Linked DNA regions of Homo sapiens. The protein of the gene in region 1 purifies or fractionates together with the protein of each later gene. This does not show direct contact. Each region holds a gene or a part of one and is shown in the gene's direction. Other genes may lie near its edges.

Evidence for each region.
Region 2: the proteins of NPAS1 (region 1) and ARNT2 purify together in Homo sapiens (co-immunoprecipitation; 3 studies listed by BioGRID and IntAct, with this or other methods). This does not show direct contact.
Region 3: the proteins of NPAS1 (region 1) and DNAJB5 purify together in Homo sapiens (affinity purification with mass spectrometry; 2 studies listed by BioGRID and IntAct, with this or other methods). This does not show direct contact.
Region 4: the proteins of NPAS1 (region 1) and PRKACB purify together in Homo sapiens (affinity purification with mass spectrometry; 2 studies listed by BioGRID and IntAct, with this or other methods). This does not show direct contact.

What each region holds. Positions count from the first base shown.
Region 1 is NC_000019.10:47,036,826-47,043,853, forward strand, and holds part of NPAS1 (neuronal PAS domain-containing protein 1), read left to right. Parts: intron 1-2,210; coding exon 2,211-2,326; intron 2,327-2,578; coding exon of another isoform or gene 2,579-2,581; coding exon 2,582-2,739; intron 2,740-3,618; coding exon 3,619-3,725; coding exon of another isoform or gene 3,726-3,905; intron 3,906-4,152; coding exon 4,153-4,300; intron 4,301-5,984; coding exon 5,985-6,079; intron 6,080-7,028. UniProt on the Homo sapiens protein: May control regulatory pathways relevant to schizophrenia and to psychotic illness. May play a role in late central nervous system development by modulating EPO expression in response to cellular oxygen level.
Region 2 is NC_000015.10:80,589,373-80,596,400, forward strand, and holds part of ARNT2 (aryl hydrocarbon receptor nuclear translocator 2), read left to right. Parts: intron 1-2,195; coding exon 2,196-2,332; intron 2,333-4,227; coding exon 4,228-4,326; 3' UTR 4,327-7,028. UniProt on the Homo sapiens protein: Transcription factor that plays a role in the development of the hypothalamo-pituitary axis, postnatal brain growth, and visual and renal function. Specifically recognizes the xenobiotic response element (XRE).
Region 3 is NC_000009.12:34,992,743-34,998,954, forward strand, and holds the end of DNAJB5 (dnaJ homolog subfamily B member 5), read left to right. Parts: intron 1-457; coding exon 458-702; intron 703-3,522; coding exon 3,523-4,124; intron 4,125-4,283; coding exon 4,284-4,517; 3' UTR 4,518-5,686; downstream 5,687-6,212.
Region 4 is NC_000001.11:84,196,258-84,203,285, forward strand, and holds part of PRKACB (cAMP-dependent protein kinase catalytic subunit beta), read left to right. Parts: intron 1-358; coding exon 359-485; intron 486-1,471; coding exon 1,472-1,567; intron 1,568-6,425; coding exon 6,426-6,548; intron 6,549-7,028. UniProt on the Homo sapiens protein: Mediates cAMP-dependent signaling triggered by receptor binding to GPCRs.

The sequences.
Region 1 (7,028 bases):
GAGCAGAGATTGTGCCACTGCACTCCAGCCTGGGCGAGTCCAAGACTGTCTCCAAAAAAAACAACAACAACAAAAGAAAGAAAAAAACATTAGCTGGGCATGATGACACATGCCAGTGGTCCCAGCTACTTGGGAGGTGGGAGGATGGCTTGAGCCTTGGGGACAGAGGTTGCAGTGAGGAGATCACGTTGCTGCACTCCAGCCCGGGTGACAGAGCCAGTGTCTGGAAAAAAAAAAAAAAAAAGGCTGGGTGCGGTGGCTCACGCCTGTAATCCCAGCACTTTGGGAGGCCGAAGTGGGCGGATCACCTGAGGTCGGGAGTTCGAGACCAGCCTGGCCAGCATGGTGAAACCCCATCTCTACTAAAAATACAAAAATTAGCCGGGCGTGGTGCAGGTGCCTGTGATCCCAGATACTCAGGATGCTGAGGCAGGAGAATCGCTTGAACCTGGGAGGTGGAGGTTGCACTGAGCCGAGATCAGGCCATTGCACTCTGAGTGAGACTCCGTCTCCAAAAAAAAAAAAAAAAAAAAAAAAAAAAAATTGCATTAGATCCTAAGCGCAGGCCCACAATGCAAGAAGTGTTATCTCCATTTTACATCAGAAAACTGAGGCACGGCGCGGAGAGGTTAAGTTAATTGCCCCCAGGTCACACAGCTATAAGTGATTGAGTTGGATTCTAGCCCAGGTCTGTCTGTTCCGGGGTCAGCACGCCTAACCCTTCTCTCCAGTGGAAATTTCCACTCCCACTGTGTATGGGAGGGAGGGTGCTGCAGATTACCCTGCCGGCTCTTTTTAGCTCTGAGATGTTGGGGGCCTATGAGGCTAACTATCCTGTAAATAGGATTTTCCAATCTTGGGTTTGCTTAACACCAAAAACATCTGAGACATCAGCTGTGCTTGCAAGCGTGGGGCGAAGTCTGCAACACGTGCAGGCTGTTGGGGAGTGGGACTGTGTTTGTACCTGAGTTTTAGGCACAGGGTCATCTGTGTGTGAGCATATTTTTAAGACCGTTTTGTAGGGGTTACAGAAGGATCTGGATTTGTGAGTCTTATTTATTGCTATTCCCCAATCCCCTGTTCTGGGCCAGCCCCTGTCCTGGTGACATAGGAGTGACCATGACAGCTCCAGCCCCACCCACCTGGGGCTCCCAGTCCAGTGAGGGGAGACCAACCTGTCCTCAGACAGTGGCAACCCAGATGGGGCAGGGCTGGGATAGGGGAACCCAGAGGGGATGGCTGACCCAGCCTGAGGGTCAGGGAGGGCTTCTTGGAGGAGGAGAAGTCTGTGCTGAGACCTGGAGGATGGGTCCTGAGAGGTGGGCTTTCCTCTCAAGGCCTCAGGAAGCTATGGCAGGTTCAGAGCAGGGGAGGGTGGAGGCACGTTTGAGCATTAGAAAGACGTAGATGGGGCCAGGCGCAGTGGCTCACGCCTGTAATCCCAGCACTTTGGGAGGCCGAGGCGGCCAGATCACGAGGTCAAGAGATTGAGACCATCCTGGCCAACATGGCGATACCCCGTCTCTACTAAAAATACAAAAACTAGCTGGGCATGATGGCGCGTGCCTGTAATTCCAGCTACTCAGGAAGCTGAGGCAGGAGAATCACTTGAACTGGGGAGACGGAGGTCGCAGTAGGCCGAGATCGTGCCACTGCACTCTAGCCTGGTGACAGAGCGAGACTCCAGCTCAAAAAAAAAAAAAAAAAAGACATGGATGGGACCAGACATGGTGGCTCACACATGTAATCGTAGCACCTTGGGAGGCCAAGGAGGGCAGATCCCTTGAAGTCAGGAGTTCAAAACCAGCCTGGCCAACATGGCAAAACCCCGTCTCTACTAAAAATACAAAAATTAGTCGGGCATGGTAGCATGTGCCTGTAATCCCAGCTACTTGGGAGGCTGAGGCAGAAGAATCACTTGAACCCAGGAGGCGGAGGTTGCAGTGAGCCAAGATTGCGCCATTCACTCCAGCCTGGACAACAGAGTGATATTCAGTCTCAAAAAAAAAAAGAAAGGATGCGGATGGCTGCCACATAGGGGAGCCCACATACTGTCCCCATGAGCTTTCAAAATCATCAGGCATGCCTCTGAGTGCGGCCGTGGCCCAGCGGACATCTTGTGTCTATGTCCGGCTGGCTCTGCAAGGGTCAGGGTGGCCTGTGTGTTTCCTCTTCAGGACCCCATAACCTTCCTTCACTCTCTGTCCCAGAGGCCAGCCTCACCAAGGTGCCCCCCTCCTCCCTGGTCCAGGAGCGCTCCTTCTTTGTCCGCATGAAATCCACGCTCACCAAGAGGGGGCTGCACGTCAAGGCCTCAGGGTACAAGGTGGGTGTGAGCAGTCAGGCTCCTGTATTCCAGGCAGCCATGTCCCCAGATTGAGGGTGACCGAGGGAACCAGGCTGGTGGCTTCACTGGCTGCAGGTGGCTTAGGGAACTGGGTCTGGGAATGGGACTGGGGGGGTCACACAGTGTCCAGTCCTCCAGCACCTGTGGGGGACAGAGGGAACCCAGCCCAGTGATGGTCCTCTTGCCCCCACTGGCCCGCCTTGTCCCTCCTCCAACCATGCCCACCACCAGCAGGTCATCCACGTGACTGGGCGCCTTCGGGCCCACGCCCTGGGCCTTGTGGCCCTCGGGCACACGTTGCCCCCGGCCCCCCTGGCTGAGCTGCCACTCCATGGACACATGATCGTCTTCCGTCTCAGCCTGGGTCTCACCATCCTTGCTTGTGAGAGCAGGTACCGGGGTTGGGGGCTGTGGCGGGTGGATTGGGGGCACAATGGAGATCTGGGGGTACATGGGGAGTCAGAGGGAGTGCTGGGTCTGCAGGATAGGGCACTGGGGAGCCATGGGAGGCGGAACAGCAATGGATGGGACAGGGTGATGGGGAGAAGGGAGGGAAGGCAGGGGACCAGGGCGGAGGCCTAGCCCAGGGGTGCCTTCGGGGATGGAAGAGGGGCTGTGTCTTGGGTCCGGGCCCTCCTTCTGGGGCTGCAGATCTTGGCCCGTCTCTGGTCTTTCATTTCTCATTTCTCTGGTCTTTCATCTCTCATCCATTTCCTCTCCTGCATCCCGCAGTGGAGGCAAATTAAGTGCTGAAATAGTCCCATGCTCTGAGGTGTCCAGGGTGCCTAGGGCCTTGCCACTAGCATCCACGCGAATACTCGCAGCTGCCCCGGGAGAGACACTGTTTTGTGGTTTGTTTGTTTGTTTGTTTTGAGATGGAGTCTCACTCTGTCAGGCTGGAGTGCAGTGGCGCAATCTCAGCTCACTGCAACCTCCACCTCCCGGGTTCAAGTGATTCTCTTGCCTCAGCCTCTCAAGTAGCTGGGATTATAGGCGTGCACCACCACAACCAGCTAATTTTTGTATTTTTAGTAGAGACGGGGTTTCACCATCTTAGGCAGGCTGGTCTCGAACTCCTGACCTCAAGTGATCCACACGCCTCAGCCTCCCAAAGTGCTGGGATTACAGGTGTGAGCCACCGCGCCTGCCAACACTGTTATTGCACCCATTTTACAGCAAGGGTGTGAACCCCAGGGGACTCTGGAGCCAACTCTGCCTCTCCCCCAACCCCGTGGTCTTGGACTCCTCCCCTCTTCTCTGTCACCCCCCAGAGTCAGCGACCACATGGACCTGGGGCCCTCAGAGCTGGTGGGCCGCAGCTGCTACCAGTTTGTCCACGGACAGGACGCCACGAGGATCCGCCAGAGCCACGTGGACTGTGAGACCCACCTCCACCCACCAAGCCTGCCTACCACCCCCCAGACCCGAGCATCCCACTCCCTGGTCCCTGGAAGTCCTTCTTCAGGGCTGCCCACAGTCCCTCCTGCTGCACCTACAGCTCCAGGGACTCCGTTTAGCATTGGAAGAGCAGCAAGGAGACTGAGTGATGCCTCAGGATGTGTGTGTGGGGGGGGGGTCTGGGGGGCTGTGGGGTCTCCAAAACACCCAAGAGGCCTCGCTGCTGGGCTACCTCTCAGTCTCTCTGACTCTGCCTCTCTGTGCTTTCACCTTTTTCTCTTCTCCCCACCGTCTCCCTGCCCACTCCCCTGCTCTCACTCCTCCTGTCTCCTCCTGTCTACCTGGCTCTCTGTCTTGCCCCTGTCCCCACCCCACCCCCTTCCCATCTCTCCCTGGGCTGGGCCCAGTGCTGGACAAGGGTCAGGTGATGACTGGTTACTACCGTTGGCTGCAGCGTGCCGGGGGCTTCGTGTGGCTGCAGTCTGTGGCCACAGTGGCTGGGAGCGGGAAGAGCCCCGGGGAGCACCATGTGCTTTGGGTCAGCCACGTGCTCAGGTGAGGGCTGTGCCCACCCCTCCTGCAGGGCACTCAGGGCCCTGCTGTCTCTCCCCACCTCCAGTGGGGGTGCTTTGGGGAGGGCTTCTAGAATGGGACAAGCCCAGGGGGTCTGCAGACACGAAGGGGAAGGAGGGGAGGATGGTGAGAGCAGAGGCCCAGAGTGGAACGGTCTTGCTGGCAGGAGACAGAGAGGAGTCGCCAGGGGGAGGGGGACAGTATCTTTGAGGAAGGCAGGGGCAGGCTCACAGCCTCCTCAGGCTCAGGTGGAGGGTCTGGACTCTTGACTCTGGGGCACTGGCGAGCCACGGCAGGCTCTTACCAGGGGAGGCCCACAGAGCACAGCAACTAATGGAAAGAAGCAGGGAGGGGTGTTCCAAGCAGAGGAAGGGCTCCAAGCAACAGCCTGACCCTAAAGGTAATGCCTTGGGCTGGAGTAGAAAGCAGTGAGAAACCAGCCTGAAGATGACGGCCTGGCCTTTTGGCTCAGGGGCACTGGGGAGTCATAGAAAGCTTTAGAGCTGGAGAGGATCATAGTCAGATCTGCTTTTTAGAAAGACTGCTCTAGACCGGACATGGTGGCTCATGCCTGTAATCCCAACAATTTGGGAGGCCAAGGCAGGTGGTTTGCCTGAGCCCAGGAGCTGAAGACCAGCCTGGGCAACCAAGTGAGGTCCCATCTCTATTAAAAAAAAATTTTTTTAATTGGCCCGTTACAGTGGCACGCACCTGTGGTCCCAGCTACAGCAGAGGCTGAGGTGGGAGGATCACCTGAGCCCAGGAGGTCGAGGCTGCAGTGAGCCGTGATCGTGCCACTGCTCTCCAGCCTGGGCGACAGAGTGAGACCCTGTCTCAAAAAAAAAAAAAAAAAAAAAAAAAAAAGGAAAAAACACCCTTCTAGGCCAGGCACAGTGGCTCACGCCTGGAATCCCAGCACTTTGGGAGGCCGAGGTGGGTGGATCACGAGGTCAGGAGTTGAAGACCAGCCTGGCCAAGACAGTGAAACCTCATCTCTACTAAAAATTTAAAAAAAATTAGCTGGGCATAGTGGTGCACGCCTGTAATCCCAGCTACTCGGGAGGCTGAAGCAGGAGAATTACTTGAACCCGGGAGGTGGAGGTTGCAGTGAGCCAAGATCATGCCACTGCACTCCAGCCTGGGCAACACAGTGAGACTCCATCTCAAAAACAAGCAAGCAAACAAAAAAACCCTTCTAGCTGCCATGAAGGAGGCACTGAGGGACAAGATGGGCGCTGGAGGACCAGGGCAGAGGCTGGGGCCAGTCCTGGGAAGTGCCAGACTCTATGGGGGAGGAGGGGAGGAGACCATCTTCTGCCCAGGTCTCTGGCTTTGCTGAGCCCGGATTTGGGCTCCTGAGAGGAACAGCAGGTTTGAAAGGAAGATGTAGACATCAGATGGGCATGAGGTGCCAGAGGACACCCAGGTGGTGACATCCAGGTGGCCACCGGCTATCCAGGTCTGGCCTTAGGAGCGAGGGCCACGCTGGGCTAGAAGTCAACCCGGAGTTTAGGGATCTGGTGTTGAGCCTTGTAAGTGCCTCAGGGTGGGGACTCCACATTTCCCCGTGGGAGTGTCCACACATTGCCACAAGTTGGGTAAAGCAGGAGGGAGTCCTGAGAGGCCAAGGACCCCTGGCTCCTAACCGCATCCATCTTCTCCCCAGCCAAGCCGAGGGTGGCCAAACTCCTTTGGATGCCTTCCAGCTTCCAGCCAGCGTGGCCTGTGAGGAGGCATCCAGCCCGGGGCCAGAGCCCACAGGTGAGCCCCACCTCCCACCTTGGCCCCTGGGAAGCTCCAAGGAACCTTTGGGTCCTGGCTGTCCATTCCAGAAGCCACTAGCCACATGCAGCCATTTATATACAATTAAAATTAAAATCCAGGCCGGTGCGGTGGCTCACGCCTGTAATCCCAGCACTTTGGGAGGCCGAGGCAGGTGGATCACGAGGTCAAGAGATCAAGACCAACATGGTGAAACCTTGTCTCTACTAAAAATACAAAAATTAGCTGGGCGTGGTGGCATGCGCCTGTAATCCCAGCTACTTGAAAGGCTGAGGCAGGAGAATCGCTTGAACCCGGGAGGCGGAGATTGCACCACTGCACTCCAGCCTAGCGACAGAGCGAGACTCTGTCTCAAAAAAAAAAAAAAAAAAATTTAAATCCAGGCCAGGAGTGGTGACTCAAGCCTGTAATCCCAGTACTTTGGGAGGCCGAGGCAGGCAGATCACCAGGTCAGGAGATGGAGACCATCCTGGCTAATAAGGTGAAACCCCATCTCTACTAAAAATACAAAAAAATTAGCTGGACATGGTGCCATGCTCCTGTAATCCCAACTACTCGGGAGGCTAAGGCAGGAGAATCGCTTGAACCCGGAGGGCAGAGGTTGCAGTGAGCCGAGATCATGCCACTGCACTCCAGTCTAGGTGACAGAGCAAGATTTAAAACAAAACAAACAAACAAAAAATTAGCTGGGCATGGTGGCACGTGCCTGTAGTCCCAGCTACTCAGGAGGCTGAGGCAGGAGAGTCGCTTCTACCCAGGAGTCAGAGGTTGCAGTGAGCTGAGATCTCACCGCTGCACTCCAGCCTGGGTGACAGAGTGAGACTCCATCTCAAAAAAATAAAATAAAATAAAATCCAGGCCCGGTGTGGTGGCTTATGCCTGTAAACCCAGAACTTTGGGAGGCTGAGGTAAGAGAATTGCTTTAGCC
Region 2 (7,028 bases), on another chromosome or scaffold:
GATGGCAAAGGGAAGGAGAGGTAGGTATGTACTTTAAGGAGGAAGGGCTGAGGGCATTGATTTGTGATGGGCAAGCCCCAAGGAAACCATCATTGCAGCAGCATCCTGGGTGAGCCTGTGTGGCAGTCATCTTCCTGAATGCATAAGGACATTCCCCCAGTCTACCATGCCCTTCCTTCAGCACAGGTGGCTATGTCCCTCCACCCTTCTGCCAAGCAACATGGACCCACTGAAGGCCCCATCTTGTGCTCAGCCTCTGCAGGCTTCCAGAATGGGACAGGTGCCTGTCAGGTGGGAATTTCCTCGTAGCTCCAGCTGGCGATGCTACTGTTTTAACTTTGCCACAGTTGTGGACCCAGCCTTCCCTCTGCTAAGCCAATTAATGAGGCCAGTCGACACGATTCTATGAAAGAGTTCCTCCTGGCCCTTGGGGTCTTGTGTGGGATCATTAGGAAAAGACATTTCACATAGGCAGATGAATTTTTTATAGCAGAATCCTATGTGCACAGTAGATTTAAATCTCTCTTATGCTAAGGAGGGGAATGTACCCTGCCTCAATTTTATAGAATTCCTTACCAACTATTGTCATCATGTAGAGTTTGAAAAGCACCAATGGTAAGGCATTAAAGGGACCTTATGCATTTTATTAAAGCCCTTTATGTCTCAGGCATTATATATGGGTGGATGGGTGGGAGAGAGAGCGAGGGAGAGAGAGAGATTCTTCTCCCTGAACACTTTCTAACCTGGCCTCACATTAACGCAGTGCCCAGGCTGGGGGTTGGGTGGGGCCTGAGGCTTCCCCGTGGCCAGCATGATCGTTGGAAAGAGTAGTATGGGACAAGATGGGGCTTCTCTTGCCACCCAGAGCTTGACAGAGAGCCCATTATCTCCAAAATGGTACTGAATGATTTGAAACAAGAAAAAAAGCTTCTAAGATTTTTGATGTTCCTTAAAGGTATCTTCTCTGAAGGTATTTTTTTAAGCCTCCTCTTTGGTTGAATCTCAAAAACGTTTTTAGACAAAATTCCACTTACTGGATCCTCTTTGGTTGAATCTCAAAAATGTTTTTCGACAAAAAACCACTTACTGGATAGGCACAGTGGCTCACTCATCCCAGCACTTTGGGAGGCCAGAGCAGGGGGACTGCATGAGGCCAGGAGTTTGAGACCAACCTGGGCAACAGAGCCAGACCCCATCTCTAAAAAAAAAATGTTTTTTAATTAGTCAGGCAATGTGGCATGAGCCTGTAGTCCCAGCTATGAGGGAGGCTGAGGCTGGAGGATTGGTTGAGCCCAGGATTTCAAGGCTGAAGTGAGCCATGATTGCACCACTGCATTCCAGCCAGGGCAGTGGAATAAGACTCTTTCTCGTATGTAAAAAACCAATTCCACTTATGTTTCCTATTTTTTGTTTTCTTCCATTGGCTGTTTTTTTGTATAAACTGTAGACAGAAGCAAAGTGGCTCTCATTTATAAATGAATTTGCTGATTCCCACAGAGGAACCTTATCTTGTCTGACCAGTGCCCAAATTTCTTCCCCTGCAAACAAACTGACGCAAAGAAAACACTCTGCCAAAGAGCCAGGCAGGAAAAGACTGTGGTGCTTGGCCCTGTAGGGGGACCTTGTATAATGCGTGTGTGGCTTCCGAGGAGTTGCTCGGGGGCAGAGGCTGAGGTTGGGAATGCCAAGATGAGGCTTTTCCTCTAGCAGGGCCAGATGCCTTTCAAGAGCATTCGGTGGACCGAGAGGGAATCAGGAGCAGGGGCAGGTGTGTCTTCCTCCTCATGCCAACACCATACTGCTGAGGACAGACCCTCTCTCAGCCCACACTCTGCATGCAACAGATATGCCCCTTGCCCCCCAGATGCCCGCAGGAGGCCTTTGTGCACAGTCACCAAGTGCAAGGAGCACTCCAAGGCTTAAAGCACCTAGTCACCTGGCAGGTGACCTCAGGAAGAGCCATCCTCTCTGGCCAAGTACCTGCACCATTGGGCAAAGGGCTCCTGTGTCTCTTATCCACTCCATTTATGATCTGTCAGCCAGTGAGAAAGACGAGGATAGCAAACACATTCCGCCAGCTCTGGATGGAACGTGCCTTTCAGAAGCGGGAGGCCCTCCAGCCGCAGTGGTTCTTAGGTCTCACAGAACCACGGGATGGCTTTTAAAGGAAGTGTCCTGTGTGTCGAATCTTTCAGCTGAAAGTGGACAAAGTAGCGGGCAGTTCCAAGGGCGGCCCTCGGAAGTCTGGTCGCAGTGGCAAAGCCAGCACCATGGCCAGCAGAGCGGTGAGCAGCACTCCCACCAGCAGCCCGGTCAGACTGAAGTGTTCCAGGTAAATCGAGCGAGCACCGCCTTCTCGTAGGTACCGGCGCCTTCTCTCTGCTTCCTTTCCCCCTCGGTCTCTGCCGCACCACCGCCTGCCCGATAGCCGTCGTGAGTTCTGGCCCAGCCTGGGCTCGAGGGAGTCCAGGAGTAGAAAGCCCCATCCTACCCAGCCAGAAACGTCAGGTGCATGTGGGAAGGAGAAGGGGCTGATGTAGCCTTCGAGCTAAGCCACACAATAGAGGAGGCTGCAGTTGGAGATGCTTCCCAGACTCCAGAGCTATCCAGGGTAGAGGCACAAAACCAAGGCCAAAGGGGGTCTCTCCTAAGAGCTGCAGGCACCCCCAGGCTTGGCTGTCTGTCACTGGCTGACCCTCTTTCTTCCCACCGTAGCCCCCAGGATGTGGAGGACATCCCCACCCAGGCCCTTGCTCAGTGCCAGCCTTGCCCTGGCTCTGCTCTCCTCTGTGGTTAAGCTCAGGGAGAGTCCCCGATTGAGGATACCTGGGCACCTTGAAACTCTCCATTATTTGAGACCTTTCTAGACCATCCCTCGTGTCTAAGGCAGACTGTGTGGCTGGGGATGGCACTGCTGCAGCCCCACAGAGCAGGCCCCTGCCCTTTGTGGGCTTCCTTGGCTCAACTTTCAGCCAGAAACATTCCTACTGGAAGGCTTCAAATGGAGGTACGAGCCCATTAACTCCCCTTCAGCCATCCCTCCAGGTCCTTCTAACAGGAACCCAGGCACGTCCTGCATGCCCCAGGCCTGCCCTGCAAAGCAATGATAGGGGCAGGAACCACATCGTGGGAGGGTTCTGAGACTCCCAGGATTGCAACCCCTCCTTCTCAAGAATCAGTGCTCCATATACCCCACCCTCATCCCAAGCCCCTCTCCTGCCGGGGTCAGCTGTGTCTTCACAGACAAAGGCCTGGGACTCAGATGTCACTCAGGGCAGCATTCTGTGAATGTACAGGGGAACGGCTCACCCAGGCCTTCGCCTGCCTCCCCTGACTGCAGCCATCTCCTCCTTCCTCCTTCTGTAAGGCCTTGTTCCTTGCCCATTCTGAGGCCCCACAGCAACCCTGTAAGGCAGAATTTCCTGACATGGATCTTCATGGTCACGATGCTAAAAAGAATTCTTGGCCAAATAAGCTTACGAAAAACTGGTTAAACAAAGTTATTGAGTTTCTTTATTGCAGGACGTATCAGAGCTTTTATTACACCAATAAGGACTGGATTTCTAGGAGGTAGGCAAAGTGTGCCTTGTTTCCCAAACTTATTTGTCCACAGAATTCTTTTCTCACAGAGTATCACATGGGCTGAGAATTCAACAGAACACATGTTGGGGAATTGGCTGTAAGAAACTAAAATAGTGCTATTCCCGTTTTCTGGATGGGTCATCTGAGGCCCAGAGGACTGGAAAGACATGTTGAAACTGAAATCTAACCATTCAGGGATTCGTCCCTGCGCTAAGATAAACATGGAAGACAGGCCAGCCAGGTCTCCACATACATCTTCCTTCCACTCCACTCTGCGTTGCATTTCTCTTATATTTTGGCCATCTGCTATCTGTTAGGTGCACCTTGCTTGGGGCCAGCCTGGGGTCTCCCCGCCAGTGGGGTTCTCGTCTACCCTGGGTCCCTGACTCAACCTTAGATAGACAAAGGGCATGTCCTAATGCCGTTTACCTGCTGTCACAACAGCTCCCTGGGGAGAACAGTTTCCCCGGGTCTCAGACATTTGAGGACCCTTGCAGAGCATCCCGCAGAAGGCTGGGGAGGACCTCTGGGCTGCCCCTTTAGGGATGGCCATGAGGGTGAGTGCAGACTGGGCTCCTGGGACATGCCCAGTGCACGGACAGAGGAGCTGACTCCCCTGTGGCTCTCTTTTCCTCTCCTCTGCAGGACATGCTGCCCATGCCAGGAGATCCAACCCAGGGGACTGGCAACTATAACATCGAAGACTTTGCCGACCTGGGCATGTTTCCACCGTTTTCTGAGTAGCTGCGGCCAGAGTGAGGCTCCTGCTGTACAGTGCCACCCATACTGTGATGTCGATGCCCATGTGAATGAGGCCCACCCTCGCCCTGCTTGCCCTGCCGCAGGCCCCCCACCAGAAGCCATCTCCCCCGCTGTGTGTCCCCAGGCGCATCATTGCTCCACTCTCCCCTGCAGCCGCGGCTGCTCGGCCACTGACCAGGGGCCCTGGCAGACATTAGGGGATCAGTTGTATTTATTGTATTTTATCTGTGTGTGCTCAGGAGGTGAGCCTAGTGGGTCCTTAAGTTTGGTTGTGAATAATCTCTTGATAGACAATTTATACCCATGAAAGTTCAGCCAATGCCCAGAGTGACCAAGCAGCACCAGCAGGCCTGCCCAGGATGCTGAAAGCAGATTTCTTCTTGATTTCACTTCTGATGGATGCATGGGGCTCTGGGGGAATGCTGGGAAAATGGGCAAGCAGAGTGCACAGCCCTCGTTCTGCCAGCTGGAGCCAAGAAGCACAGAGACACAGAGGCGCCTGCCCCTCAGCTCCGCTGGTCTGTCTGTGCATCCACTGTGCCGTGGGACATATGTAATTTGTGCAGTGTGACATGGACTTGCTGTCCTAATGGATGTGTTGTGCCTTGTGTCTGTCATGTGTGGCCAGCGTGATTGTATAGAATCCAGAGTATGTAGAGAGCCAAAATGTGTGGCCCTGTCCCCAAGCTCAGCACCACCGGCCATGACCAGAGGTTGCTCGGCCCAGGGTCTGGGAGCTGGGCTAACAGGCTGACACTTCGGCAGGGTCACCAGGAGGCACAGCTAGGGGCATGCTCACATGGGTAGGTCAGTTCTTTGGTCCAAGCCTCTGGTGCAGATTCAAGCTCCTCCTCTTAGAGGAAGCAGCTCCTTCCTCCCACAGGAGCCCCAAGGGAGCACTCACCCTCCTCCCAATTGGATCTGAATAGCTGTGTTCCTGATCCCACATAAGCATGTCTCATCCTTGCCCCACTGGTGAGAGGAGGACCTTGTGCCTGCCCAGAGCCTGCAGGACAGCACGCCTTGAGGTCAGAGGCCTGGCCCTTCTTTACAGATGTAGATAGCAGGGTAGGACGCCCAGGCCTTCTCACATGGGCACCATGAAACACTTTCTTCCAGGCCACCTGAGCCTTCGTTCTTCAGCCCGACTGGAGGAACAGCAGCTCTGGGAGGCACAGAGTGCAGGTCTCAGGGGCAGAAGACATGGGTTCCAGTTCTGGTTCTGCCACACACCCACCGGCCTTGAATTTCTCTGGTGGTCTCAAGACAAGAACAAGAGCTGACTCTAGAATCTTCTGCCTGGCTGACCTCTGAGCCCATGATCCCTGGCTTGCTGTGCTTCTCTTGGATTTGAGGAGAGTTTATGAATCCATCCCCCTGTTTTCAGGGACCTCTGCCTTCTCCCACACCCCTTACACTAGTGAGGACTCCTTCGGCCTCTTGTGTTTCCTTCCTTTTGTGACCATTACGCCCCCTCCCTGTTTCTTATCACCAGCCCATCAGCCCACTGACTCCCATATGGTAGAAAAGGTACCGTGGCTGCTGCAGGGCACATGGAGGGACCTACCCTCTGGGAAAGCCCTTGTGTCCCTCCCAGAGTCCTTCAGGTAGGCCCTCGCAGATGCTGCTTGCTCAGAAACAACCCGTGCATCCCTGCCCATGGATTCTGCAGGACCTAGAAGAGTGGCATTGGTTCTAGGAACCTGAGAGTGGAGTGAGGCCAGCATGCAGGAAGGAGTTTGGAGAGAGTGTTTGCTGTGATCCATTGAAAGCTCCACATTAAACCCCAGCCCTGTCTGGCCAGGGAGATCCATGTGCTCAATGTTGCTGGGGGACCTACAAAAGTCAAACATTGCTCAGTAAAATGCCTTTGGCTGGTCGCCAGCTGTGCATGACTGCAGTTCCTAGACTCTAACTTAACCCCAACTTTGCAGTTTCTAGAGCTTTTTGTCTGTAATGGTGATTGGGTCTCCACTGTAGATGCATGCAGTGTTCACTCCAACCTCAGAGGCTTTCTTGCTTCTGGGGAAATGGCAGGTGGTTGAAACCCTGCACATCCTCCCAGGGCCAGCCCCAGAATGGGCCTTTCTCTGCCTGCCCTGCCCTTGGGGCCACCTCTGCCTCCAGCAGGCTTGAGCTTGCCCCAGGCCTTGGGCATAATTATTTCCCCCCAAAAAAGGCACAAAAATAGGTTTTGGATCAAAGAAGTGTTTCTCAGTGAAATGAAAACAGTCTTTTTATAGCCTTTAGCTTGTGAGTTTGGAAGTTTGGGGGGTCTTATGTTTGTTTTGCCTCTTCTGTTTCTTGGAGGAGAGTTGAGGCTTTTCTTAGGTGCATACACAGACCCAGGTGAACACGCTGACTGTGAACCTGCCCTGTATCCGGAGCTGTGCTGGGCACTGAGGGGATGCAACAAAATTAGGAGAGGATCCTTGCTCCCAACGTCTACTTCTCCTACCTCAACAGGGGTCCAGGGTGCAGTGAACTCAGTTCTTGGCCCTTGGGTGAGGATTCATGGATGAATGAAAGCTAGACCTGATGGGGAGGCATTATGACTAAATAGGCCCAGCCTCCTTCCCTTCCAGCTCTGTCCTAGGAGCATAGGCGGGAAATCTGAGTAGAGTCTGACTGCAGTTTTTGCTTATGATTTGTAAAAGCCGTCATGGGGTCAATAAGAAAATAGG
Region 3 (6,212 bases), on another chromosome or scaffold:
TGCCCCAGCTGCCCTCAGCCTGGGCACCATGCCTGAGGCGTGGCGTAGGAGACCACGATGCTCAGGTGACCTCACCCGTTACACTGACCTTCGCCAGCTCCTGTGTGTGGGTCGCTCAGTCCATGGTGCCACCTCGCTCAGCAGGGCCTCTCAGGGGTCCTCAGTCTGGCCCAAGGACCAGGGCCTCAGCCTAGCCCCAAGAGTGGGCCACAACCTTCAGCTTCCTGCTGGGAAAACCCAGGAGGTGAGGACGGAATCACAGAATTCTAGAATGTCAGAGCCAGAAGAGATCATCTAGTCCAAACCTTTCATTTTACAGATGGGGGGACGCAGGCCCACAGAACAGGCATGACCTGCTGAAGGTTACCCAGGGAGTCATTTAGGGATTGCAAGATCATCAGGAACAGGGCTGGGGCAGAAGAGAAGGCATCAAGTCTTGGCCCTGGGTTTCTTTCAGAAACAAGGAGACCAGTGCTGGTCCAGTGGCTGTGATGGGAAAAGATTATTACAAGATTCTTGGGATCCCATCGGGGGCCAACGAGGATGAGATCAAGAAAGCCTACCGGAAGATGGCCTTGAAGTACCACCCAGACAAGAATAAAGAACCCAACGCTGAGGAGAAGTTTAAGGAGATTGCAGAGGCCTATGATGTGCTAAGTGACCCCAAGAAACGGGGCCTGTATGACCAGTATGGGGAGGAAGGTAAGAGGGCAGCACTCCAGCCCAATCCCGGACCCCTCCGCTTGGTAGGGGTCCCAGGTGCACCAGTTTGTGTAGCGGGGAACTGGAGGCTGTGGAGGGGGTGAGGGCAGCAAGGGTTTCCAGCACTGTCACCCAGAGAAGAGAGAAGCCCACCCACTACCCAGCTCAGCTCACCCTAGTTCTCCCCGCCTCTCTCTGCCCCCTCCCTCCTCGGGTTCAGGCCTTAGAGAGGTCTGAAGCAAGAGCCAGAGGCCTTCCCCGCCCTTCTTTCCTTCCCAGCCTTATTAGTCCTGCCTGAAGTCTCCGCTGCTTCATTGGCTGATGAGGAAGGTTGGGGAGAGGGAGTGTGTGGCTCTCTGAGGACAGAGCATTTACATTCATCAGCATAAAAGTCTGGCCCTTAAGCAGCCTGGGAATTAACTACCAGAGCTCTGAGCAGAAATGGTTTTCCCCTTCTCTCCCCCGGCCCTGCCTGCTTCTGGCCAGCAGAACAGAGGTGGAGCTTTGCCTCCCAGAGGAAGTGGCAGGGATCCAAGGGTGGACGGGGAACTGCTGCTGGCATCTTCCCCCTTCCCTGGGGTAGCTGGTGGCCATGGGGTGGGAGGCAGGAAAGGCCCAAATAAAGCCTCTGAGAGGGAGGCCCCTCCCAGCACATCCCACGGCCATGATGTAGCTGCTAATTCTGGGCCTGCCCCTCAGGGCTGCCTGCCACCCGCCAGCCACAGGCACCTGTCAGGCTATATTAAGAGACATTGTCACGCTGAGGACTCTCCTTCCTGGGAAGAACTGTCCTTCCTCCCCAACAGAATCCACCTTTCTTTCACATTCTCCTCCTCTTCACCCTCCCCTTTCTATCCTCAAAACTAAATGGGCTAATCATATGTAGATAAGAAGGTTATTTTCTTCCCCTCCTCCTGGCCTTGTGTTCCATGCCCCTCTGTGAACCCTCATCCTCCCAACTCCCTTTTCCTATTCTCCATGCTGCCGGTTCCTTCCATTCTTCCTGCCTACCTCCTAGACGTGCCAACTCCCAGATTCACCAGATACCGGCTGGAACCCCCAGTATTCTTTCAGCTAAGACATTTTTCTCTCTGGCATGGAGGGATGGGAGGGATAGGAGTGGAAAAGAGGGAAGCAGTGCAGACACCATGCCACCATGTGACCTGTCTTGGAATTGCACCCATTCCTCCATTCAGCCTCACCTTTGTTTAGAAAGAAGGCAGGAGCTGGGAGAGCTCCCTTGAGATACTTCACCCCTTCTGCCTAAGTGAAGGGGTCCAGACACCAGGTTCTGATGCAGAACCCCATCCCAGGAAGGCCCCTGAGGATGCGGCATGGCCTTAAGGGGACCTCCATGGCCTGGGGAGGGAGAAGCAGCTTAGAAATGTTGGTTATATTTCTGTCCACCCTGCCCAATCCCCAGCAGCCATTTATTATAGAGCAGTTATACACACAGACTCTGTGTGCAGCTCCAGCTAGGGACAAGTTGCTCCCAGCTTGAAAAGGGGGTGGTAGTGGAAGAATAGAAATCCCTATAGAGAGAATTACCCCTTCCCATCATCATCAGTCCAGCCTCCCTCCCTCTCTCACTGAGCTCTGCCAGGCTGCTTGAACTCGCTTGATAATCAGCCCCTCGATAGAAGGAAAGGAGAGATCCTAGGTCTTGGGGGAGGGGTGAAGAGGCAGCTGCCACAAGTCCCTGAACCGTCTGCCACTTGGCCTCTCTAGTGAAACTCAAATCTGCCCTTGTGGTCCCAGGAAATAAGAGGCTAATTTAGGCTCAGATCTCCATGATCAGTTGAAATTCTAGATAAATGGCCTCAAAGAGAAGGGTCTCTTTCCTAGCCTGGACCCCACCCATAGTCTCTGTATTCCGGAGCAGTTCTCAGTGTGAACCGTCTCCCCACATCCCCCACTACTGCCAGCACCCCCTCCTGTGCATGAAGGCTGCCTCCAGGAATCTGAGCCCCTTAGACAGGACCTGACAGAGAGAGCAGCTAAGGTCACCACTGCCATGTGCCAGCCCATTCATGCATTTTGGTTGCTCAACATTAGGTGTGGGGTATGGCGTTTGCTGTTGTATAACTCCAGGGAGCTCCATTCCCATTGTAGTCTATGTCTGTACAATGTGTGAATGACACTCCCTAAAGTTGTGTAACACCGAGCAGAGTGTGGGAACAAAGCATTTAAAAACTTTTTCTAGAAAAATAGCTCTTCATCTCCAAGCTAATGAGCTTTCCCACTTTTTAAGGCTTCCTGATTTCCCGTTTGAGCAGGGGCCAGGGAAAGAGGAAACACTGCTAGAAGCAGAGTGAAAGTGGTCTTCCTCCCGGGTTGGATCCCTAGCCTATTTGCGACTGTTCACTTACCAGCCCCCTCTGTGGTCACATCCTGTCTGATGGCCCCTTGTCCTATATGTCTTTGGAGATAAGCAAAGATTTGGGAACCAAGTATCACTTGTAATGTGACACCAGGCTAGTCATTCAAGGCTTTTTGAGACATCTTTGGACCATGAGTATGTGGAAAAGATTACAGGACTGGAAGTCACATCCTCTAAGTCCTCTAGTCCTGGCTTTTCCACCTATTGGGTAAGCAAGCCTCTTTGAATCTCAAGTTGTGCATCGTTATTAAATATATAATTAGGAATGGAAGATAATCTTGCCAGAAGCCTTTCTTACTCTATTAGCCTGGCCCTCTCTGTGGGATTTAAAGGTTGCTTCTTTCTTTAAGCCTGTGAACTGGGAGCTAGAGGGCAGGGGGAAGACACTGGGATTGGGGCCAGAATAAGCCACACTGCCCCTAACTTCTCCTCCCCTCTAGGCCTGAAGACCGGCGGTGGCACATCAGGTGGCTCCAGTGGCTCCTTTCACTACACCTTTCATGGGGACCCCCATGCCACCTTTGCCTCCTTCTTTGGTGGCTCCAACCCCTTCGATATCTTCTTTGCCAGCAGCCGCTCCACTCGGCCCTTCAGTGGCTTTGACCCAGATGACATGGATGTGGATGAAGATGAGGACCCATTTGGCGCTTTCGGCCGTTTTGGCTTCAATGGGCTGAGTAGGGGTCCAAGGCGAGCCCCAGAACCACTGTACCCTCGGCGCAAGGTGCAGGACCCCCCAGTGGTGCACGAGCTGCGGGTGTCCCTGGAGGAGATCTACCATGGCTCCACCAAGCGCATGAAGATCACAAGGCGTCGCCTCAACCCTGATGGGCGAACTGTGCGCACCGAGGACAAGATCCTGCACATAGTCATCAAGCGTGGCTGGAAGGAAGGCACCAAGATCACCTTCCCCAAAGAAGGCGACGCCACACCTGACAACATCCCTGCTGACATCGTCTTTGTGCTCAAAGACAAGCCCCATGCACACTTCCGCCGAGATGGCACCAACGTGCTCTACAGTGCCCTGATCAGCCTCAAGGAGGTGGGGCCTAGTCAGGCTGTGTGTGTGTGCTGGGGAGATGGTGGGGACATTCCCTCTCTTCCCGCCAGCTGGCACATTCTTTCCCCACCTCAGTCTATTTCCTTCCTTCCCACTCACCTTACCCCACCTTTTCCTCACTTTCTGCTTCGTCTTTCCCAGGCGCTGTGTGGCTGCACTGTGAACATTCCCACTATCGACGGCCGAGTGATCCCTTTGCCCTGCAATGATGTCATCAAGCCAGGCACCGTGAAGAGACTCCGTGGGGAGGGCCTTCCCTTCCCCAAAGTGCCAACTCAGCGAGGAGACCTCATTGTTGAGTTCAAAGTTCGCTTCCCAGACAGATTAACACCACAGACAAGACAGATCCTTAAGCAGCACCTACCCTGTTCCTAGGCTCTGCCCCAGCCAGTCCAGAGCCTACCACAGCAATACCCCCAACACTCACTCCACTCAATGTGCACCCAGCTTGATGTCCACTGGACACTGGCAACTTTTTCTAAAATGCAAAAAAAAGCCACTGGTTTTCAGGAAAATGTTCCTGTCCCTGACCCCTTTTAGAGCTGGGCTGCCTGGGGGGAGTGGGAGGGAGGTGGGGAGAGCTAGCCCAGGCCAGGGGTCAATGTTCATGTCACTAGCTTTCAATCCAGTTTCCACTGCAGTGGCTGGAGAGTGACCTGAGTGCTACTTGAAGATATGTAGAGATTCCTTATCCATGCCTGTACATAGCATGTCCTCCTCCCCTCAGCTTTGCTAATACCAGTCCCCTCCCTTCCCTTTGGCTTCCTGCTGTTGGGGGTGGAAAAGACTAGAAAGGACATTGCTTTCTCAGCCCCACCCCCAGGTCCACAGTGTCCAAGGTAATGGCACACATATTCATGCACAAGAAGCACTCACCTAGAGCTGTCTGTGCCTCTCTGGGAGAAAGGAGAGAGGATAAGAAGGGAAAGTTCACAACCTGTGAACAGGGACTTGAGCACGAGACACTTTTCATCTGGAGCAGGGGGGTGAGCTCCTCAGCAGCCTCCGTAACAGCTGCCCTGCCTACACCTGCAGAGCTGGAGGTTCTGTCCTCCCTGCTGCTCTCAGGAGTGTTCAAGGGTGGAGGGCAGGGAATGGGGCCTGAGGTATTAAGGCTAAGAGGTGGGGGACAGGGCCCATCTACCAGCCTTCATCAGGAAGGGAAAGGGCTTTGGGGTCAGGTGGCAGCTATTCCCCACCAAGAGATTCAGGGTCACAGGTTTTTCCCCACACCTCTGAACTCAGGGCCTAGCCACCCCCAAACTTCCAAATCCCACTTTTGTGATATGTGAAGCTACTCATTTCTTACCCTTGGAGGCTGTGTGGGGAATTTCCAGCCCTTTTATGCCTGTGTGATCCCACCCCACCCCCATAGTTGTATAAAGGTCATAGTGAAGAAGCTGGGGGAAGACTGCTTCAGCCAGATCCTGGGGTGGGGTCTTTAGGTTTTCTCACTTTGACAACCCCCGAATGTTTTTATAGTAGTTTTTTTGTATTTTTTTGTAATGACAGTATTATGTAAAAAATAAAGTATTTTAAAAATATGGCATCTGAGCAGGAGCAACAAACCTGGGATGGGGGTGGCTGAGGAGGGCCACTGTCATCCTCCCTCCCGGGCTCTGGTCACCTTTGAGAAGCCCAAGCAGGCCCTCAGTATAAGCTGAAGCTGACCTCTGCCTTCCTCGAAGCCTCCTGGGATTTCTAAAACTTATACTTCAAACACAGCACAGACAGAAAGTACCACTCAGCTATTAGAAGAAACATCTATTTGGGAAGGAAAAATATCCCTGCTCATGAGAGACAGAGACCATTGTCTTCAGATGTGCTAGCATGAAAACAGATTTTCTCTTCTTGTCTAAATTTTCTCTGAGTCAGACAAATTTTCCTTCTAGGAGAAAATTTTTTTCTAGGAGGGGGTGGAGAACTTTTTTTTTTTTTTTTTTTTTTTGACACGGAGTCTTGCTCTGTCGCCCAGGCTGGAGTGCAGTGATGCGATCTTGGTTCACTGCAGCCTCTGTCTCCTAGGTTCAAGCGACTCTCCTGCCTCAGCCTCCGAGTAGCTGGGATTAC
Region 4 (7,028 bases), on another chromosome or scaffold:
CCCCGATAGACACTCCATTTGGCACATTTGCTTTCCAATTATTCTCAAGATCAGACATAATTAGAAAGACATCAATATATTTAAATATGGGCAATAATGATTCACAATGAGCTAACTATTTTAGGTTTATATTTTTCCTCAACATATGCTTCCCCATAAATTTATCAGAGCGTTATTTGAACAAAATATAGAGATTTAATAAATATTTGAAAAGTAACAAGGTTCTTTACATACTTTTTAAAAAAATACTTTTTGTTCCCAAAGTACCTCTACTTCATATTAGTTTTTATGCATAATCTACTAATTAGAATGTATTAACTCATTTTTACAGAAAATCAATGGTTTTATTTCTTTGCAGTGAGCCCCATGCACGGTTCTATGCAGCTCAGATAGTGCTAACATTCGAGTACCTCCATTCACTAGACCTCATCTACAGAGATCTAAAACCTGAAAATCTCTTAATTGACCATCAAGGCTATATCCAGGTATGACTTTAACACATTATGTGTACTGTATATGAGAAAATACTAGGCAAGACATTGTATGTATGTAACCCCAACTTGGAATTTTTTTTGAAGAAGACACTTTCTCCTAATAGTTTAAGTAGAGCTCAGAGTTTTGCTGCTATTACAGAGAAGCAAAAATCCTGTTATGAAAGGAACTTGTTTATATCTCCATTAATCTATAGTTGTGAACTGAGTATAGCCTCTTGCATAAGGAGATATTAATAGCTAAATCTATGAGCAGTTATTAGTGCCAGGCATATTCCACTTGTTTTACATGTATTATTTCTTTAATCCTGATAAACCTATGAAGTGGAAATACCATTGTTATCTTCATTTTAAGATTAACAAAACTAAGACATAGCAAGGTCATTTAGCCAATAAATGGTAGAGTCAGAATTTGAACCTAGGCAGTCTGATCCCAGAGTCCATGCCCTTTACGACTACAATATAACTGCCAAAGAATCCCTGACTACCAATACTGAACTCGTAGCAACGTTTTCTTTCCACTTCTACTACTAATAAAGTGGGAGCATTTCTTTTTACACAATTATTGATAGATTCTCCCATTGACGTTTTTACACTTCTGATGGTGCAACTAATGGCAGAGGACACATTGGGGTAAGGCAGACATTTAGCATTGTTTCATTTTTATTAATGCTATTTATTTTTACCTTTTATTTTCACTTTTTTATTCCTTGGGTCTAGGATCTTATAATAATGACTGAAAAGAGTTTTGTTGTTATTAATTTGTTCCTTTTCTTTGAGTTGAGGAAGGATTTCCAACTTGGATTGTTTAAACTTTCATTCACTAGATATTCATGAATGAATTTCAATTACGTGGACTTAATTTTTTTTCCATTTCTTTCATAGTTTCAATTTGAATTTTAAACTTTCAACGTAGGTGCAATAAATACATTTATTGTGAGGTAATACATTTTCACTAGTATTCTTTTTTTCTTTTATAGGTCACAGACTTTGGGTTTGCCAAAAGAGTTAAAGGCAGAACTTGGACATTATGTGGAACTCCAGAGTATTTGGCTCCAGAAATAATTCTCAGCAAGGTATATTCATAATATCAACACATAAGAAGTAGAAATATGAGACATGCATCCCTATGGACTTTTGTAAAAACAGTTTATTGATCTAATTTTACATTTTTAATTTGATCTAAGTTATGAATTTAAATCTATTTGTGCATGATTACTAAAGAATTATTATTTAGCATCTACCACTAATCCTGTAACCTCTGTCAATTTTAACTCTGGGTCTTAGAGATATAATATGAATAAATATGACCTCTAGATCCATGTTTTGCAACCAAAAACATAGTCTTTTCTTAATTATTCCTAGTAACGGAAGGGTAGAGAAGACTTGCTCTGGATTATACCAAGAGGTAAATCTAGAGATGATATGTACTAGTTGTCCATTCTTTCTTTGTTTCAAATTTACCAGTTAAATAAAAGGAATGTATGAGAAGTGTTTTTAAATTTTAAATAGGACTATTAACAGCAATTGAATAGTTTTAGTCTTATTGAAGGCAGCTCTGCTTTTCTAAATAGTGAAACGTGGTGAGAGAAACTGTACCTATATCCAAAAGAATGGTTAACTTTTCCTCTGCCATCACTTGGTGGAGAAATCTAGAAAGGAGAACCTAACAATAACCAGGCACAAATAGGAGAGAGGAAAAGGAAGGGGATAAGACACATGCTTCACTGGTTCCCAAATGGAATCATTGAAATATGGCTAACTTATAGAAGTGTTAAAATAAAAGATTTCTTTCAACTTTTCTCTCATTATCTTTCATAATTTAAATAATATGTAACTTCTTGATATTTTATAATCTAAATATCATTGTAGTTAACACATTTCTTTAAATACAGTTAACAAATAATGGGACAACAAAATGAGCACTAAAACTTTTACAAATGTGTATATATTGTAAAAGTAATACTCATTATACAAAATTTAGAAAATACAGAAAAACATAAACAAACAACCAAAAAAAAACCTATATGTAATCCCACCAACCTAGACGCAGCCTTTTTAAAAACATTCATATATGTATGTACATATATGTATATATGTGTATATGTGTATATATATACACCACATATATGTGTATATATGTGTATATATATACACATATGTGTGGTGTGTGTGTATATATGTATATGTGTATATATACATATATATTCATATATATGTGTATACGCATATATGTATATATGTATATGTGTATATATACATATATGCGTATATATACACATATATACGCATATGTATGCATATATATATGCGTATATATGCATATATGTATATATATGCGTATATATGCATATATGTATATATATGCATATATATATATATATACACACACATTTTAGCTTTATTTTAGCTTTCATTTTAGGTTCAGGGATACATGTGAAGGTTGGTTACAGACGTAAACTCATGTCATGGGGGTTTGTTATACAGATTATTTCATCACTCAGGAATTAAGCCCAGTACCCATAGTTATCTTTTCTTATCCTCTCCCTCCTCCCTACCTCCACCCTCAAGTAGAATCCAGTATCTGTTTTTTCCTTCTTTGTCTTCATAAATTCTCATCATTTAGCTCCCACTTACAAGTGAAAACATGTGGTATTTGGTTTTCTGTTCTGCATTAGTTTGCTGAGGATGATAGCCTCCAGCTCCATCCATGTTCATGCAAAAGACATGATCTCATTCCTTTTTATAGCTGCATAGTATTCCGTAGTGTATATGTACCACATTTTCTTTGTCTAGTCTACAATTGGTGGACATGTAGGTTGATTCCATGTCTTTGCTTTTGTGAATAGTGCCACAATGAATAAACAAATGCATGTGTCTTTATGATGAAATGATTTATAATCCTCTGGGTGTATACCCAGTAGTGGGATTGCTGGGTCGAATGGTAGTTCTGCTTTTAGCTCTTTGAGGAATCTCCATACTGCTTTCCACAATGGTTGAACTAATTTACACTCCTACCAACAGTGTCTAAGTGTTCACTTTTCTCTGCAACCTTGCCAGCATCTGTTATTTTTTGACTATTTGTTTATTTATTTATTTATTTATTTATTTTCTGGAGATGGAGTCTTGCTCTGTCGCCCAGGCTGCAGTGCAGTGGCGTGATCTCGGTTCACTACAACCTCTGCCTCCTGAGTTCAAGCGATTCTCGTGCTTCAGGCTCCCAAGTAGCTGGGACTACCGGCATGCACTACAACACCTGGTTAATTTTTGTATTTTTTAGTAGAGACAGGGTTTCACCATATTGGTCAGGCTGGTCTTGAACTCCCGACCTCAAGTGGTGCACCCTCCTTGGCCTCTCAAAGTGCTGGGATTACAGGGGTGAGCCACTATGCCCTTCCATTTTTTTACTTTTTAGTAATAGCCATTCTGACTGGTGTGGAATGGTATCTCATTGTGGTTTTGACTTGCTTGCATTTCTCTAATGATCGGTGATATTGAGCATTTTTTCATATCTTTGTTGGCCGCATGTATGTCTTGTTTTAGAAAGTGTCAGTTCATGTCCTTTGCCCACCTTTTCATGGGGTTGTTTGTTTCTTGTAAATTTGTTTAAGTTCCTCATAGATGCTGGATATTAGACCTTTGGCAGATGCATATGGTTTGCAAATATTTTCTCCCATTCTGTAGGTTGTCTGTTTACCGTTGATAGTTTCTTTTGCTGTGCAGAATCTCTTCAGTTTAATTAGATCCCACTTGACAGTGTTTGCTTTTGTTGGAATTGCTTTTGGTGTCTTTGTCATGAAACCTTTGTCCATTCTTATGTCCAGGGTGGCATTGCCTAGGTTGTCTTTCAAGGTTTTTATACTCCGGGGTTTTGCATTTAGGTCTTTAATCCATTTTGAGTTGATTTTTGTATATGGTATAAGGAAGGGATCTATCTTCAGTCTTTTGCATGTGGCTAGCCAGTTATCCCAGCACCATTTATTGAGTAGGGAAACTTTTCCCCATTGCTTGGTTTTGTCAGCTTTGTCAAAGATCGGGTGGTCGTAGGTGTATGGACTTATTTCTGGGTTGTCATAGTTGAAATCATAGTAAATATATATAGTCTTGTCTCTGACTTTTTTCACTTTTATAATAACAAGCATGCAAACATCATTCTAATGGCTTGTTTGTAAATGTACCATAAAATATGTAGCCACTCTTCTATCGTTGAGTGTTCAGGTTTTATTTTTGATTTTTTTATTATTATAAATAACTATGATAAACATCCTTATACATAAAAGTTTTTTCCTTATTTTACATTATTTCCTTAGCATATATTCCCAGAAGTAGAATTACTGGGTCAAGGAATAGGAACATTTTTAAGGCTTTTGATACATATTGCCAAATTGCTTTCCAAAGTTATTATGCCATTTTACACTTCTACCATTAGTGTATTATAGTGCCTATTTCATAACACTATCACTGGGTATACTCATTTTTAAAATATTTACTGATTTCATAGGCAATAAATTGTATCTCATTGTTTTAATTCTCATGTTTTTTATTTATTTTTCAAATGGTTAATAGCCATTTGGTATTTCTTTATGTGTCTGTAAATTATTAGTTCATTTCCTTGGCCCATTTATCTATTGTAATTTAACATTTTTCTTATTGATGTGTTTTGATTTCTATACCTTGGGTATTAACTTGTGTCTGACATATTTACTATAAACATTAGCACACAATTTAAACATATGAATCAAAAAGTTAAAGAGAGTTAATGCCTATTTCTATTAAAAAACAAAGTGCTATTCCTGTTATACCACTCCTTCCCTTAAAAAGATATACACAGTATCAGGAAAAAAAAGAGAAAAAGAAAATCTCTATAGCGCTAAAGTATTATATTTTTGCTAGAATTTTGAAAACTAAGTAGTTTGTAAAGCTAAAATTTTGACAAAAGGGTGGAATGTGGTGAGTCGTGATGGTAGAGGGTACCTCTGAGGGCAGAGCAATAGATCTGGGTAGAATTCAGCTTATTTCTCTTCATGACAGGTTTTTGGGGTTGTTAAAAAATCTCTTGTGTCAGTTGATACTGACCATAGTTAATAAACTATATTAGCATGTTAATATGAAGATGTTATTCTTATTTATTTTCTTATGAATACTTACAAATTTTAATTTTAGTAAGCTTAATATGAAAAAAACAAACATAACCTGTGATTTTTACATTTGGTTTGCAAAGCACTTTTTACACACGTTACTCCCTTTCATTTGATACAGTCCTCACAAAACTCTGTGAATTCATTTTTTTCCTGCATATCTTTTAGATATAGGAAGCAAGACAGTAGATAGCAGAAGTAAAGTATACCTAAATATTTACATGAATTGAATTTTACATTAAACTTTTTGCTTTCACAAAATCCTATGAAGCAGATGGGATTATCCCTAGCACATTCACCCTCCTAACTCCAAAAATATAGAGTATTTTGAAGTCAACTTCATTATTTACTATGTAGTCCAGTTTCTATTATTTTCTTTGAAAACTTTTGATCTTTCTAGGCATGCTGTGGAAAATCTGTTTCATAAGATTATGGACCTAGAGTGGGCCTTAAGAAGTAATGTGGTCTAACTGCCTTCCTGTTATTGAGCAAGAACTAAATTATACCAGTGAAATAAAGAAAATTTCATTGTCTATAATATTCTTAATAATTTTAGGAAGAAGATTTAATACTCTTTCCTAATATCCAATTTCAGTATCTGGAAATCCTCTCCTTTGTTTAATTTAAATCTGACCTGATACATTTGGTTCATTTTTAAATTCTGTCCTGAATAGCTGCTCAGCAATTGCTTTAAAAAAATTTTTATATGCTTCCAGATCATTTTGAAATTATCTTTGACTTCATTCTCTTTTGAGTAACTTAAGTAACAATTGACATTGGTGTTGGTTTATCTCAGGGCTACAATAAGGCAGTGGATTGGTGGGCATTAGGAGTGCTAATCTATGAAATGGCAGCTGGCTATCCCCCATTCTTTGCAGACCAACCAATTCAGATTTATGAAAAGATTGTTTCTGGAAAGGTAAGTAAAACATTTTATTATTCCTCTCTTATTACTGTATATGAATTTTAAGCTTCATGAATTGAAACTATATTGTGTCATAATTATTATTCTACATTGGGAAAAATATAGAAAAATCTACAGTTGCTGCTCTTACTATCATAAGAATTGAATCATTTCAGTCTCTTAAGAAAAAAAGGGCAGTTTTATAAAGAAATTAACAAAACAGTAAAGCAATTTCTGTATTTAGTATTTTTATCACAAAGAACAGGATCATAGCCATAATTCTCGATATTCCTTCAAATAAATAAAAATAGTTTATTATTTCATGTGTCTATCTTCATGGAGAAAAGTTTTAGGGGCTGTTTTATATGCCCTTCCATTTTCAGGAGAGACTTCTTGTTTTAATTATGTCCAATACTATAACATTGGAAGTAAAAGTAAATATAAAATGAATAAGCCTTTTTCAGATGGAAATTTATAGAATTGATTTTAACAGAA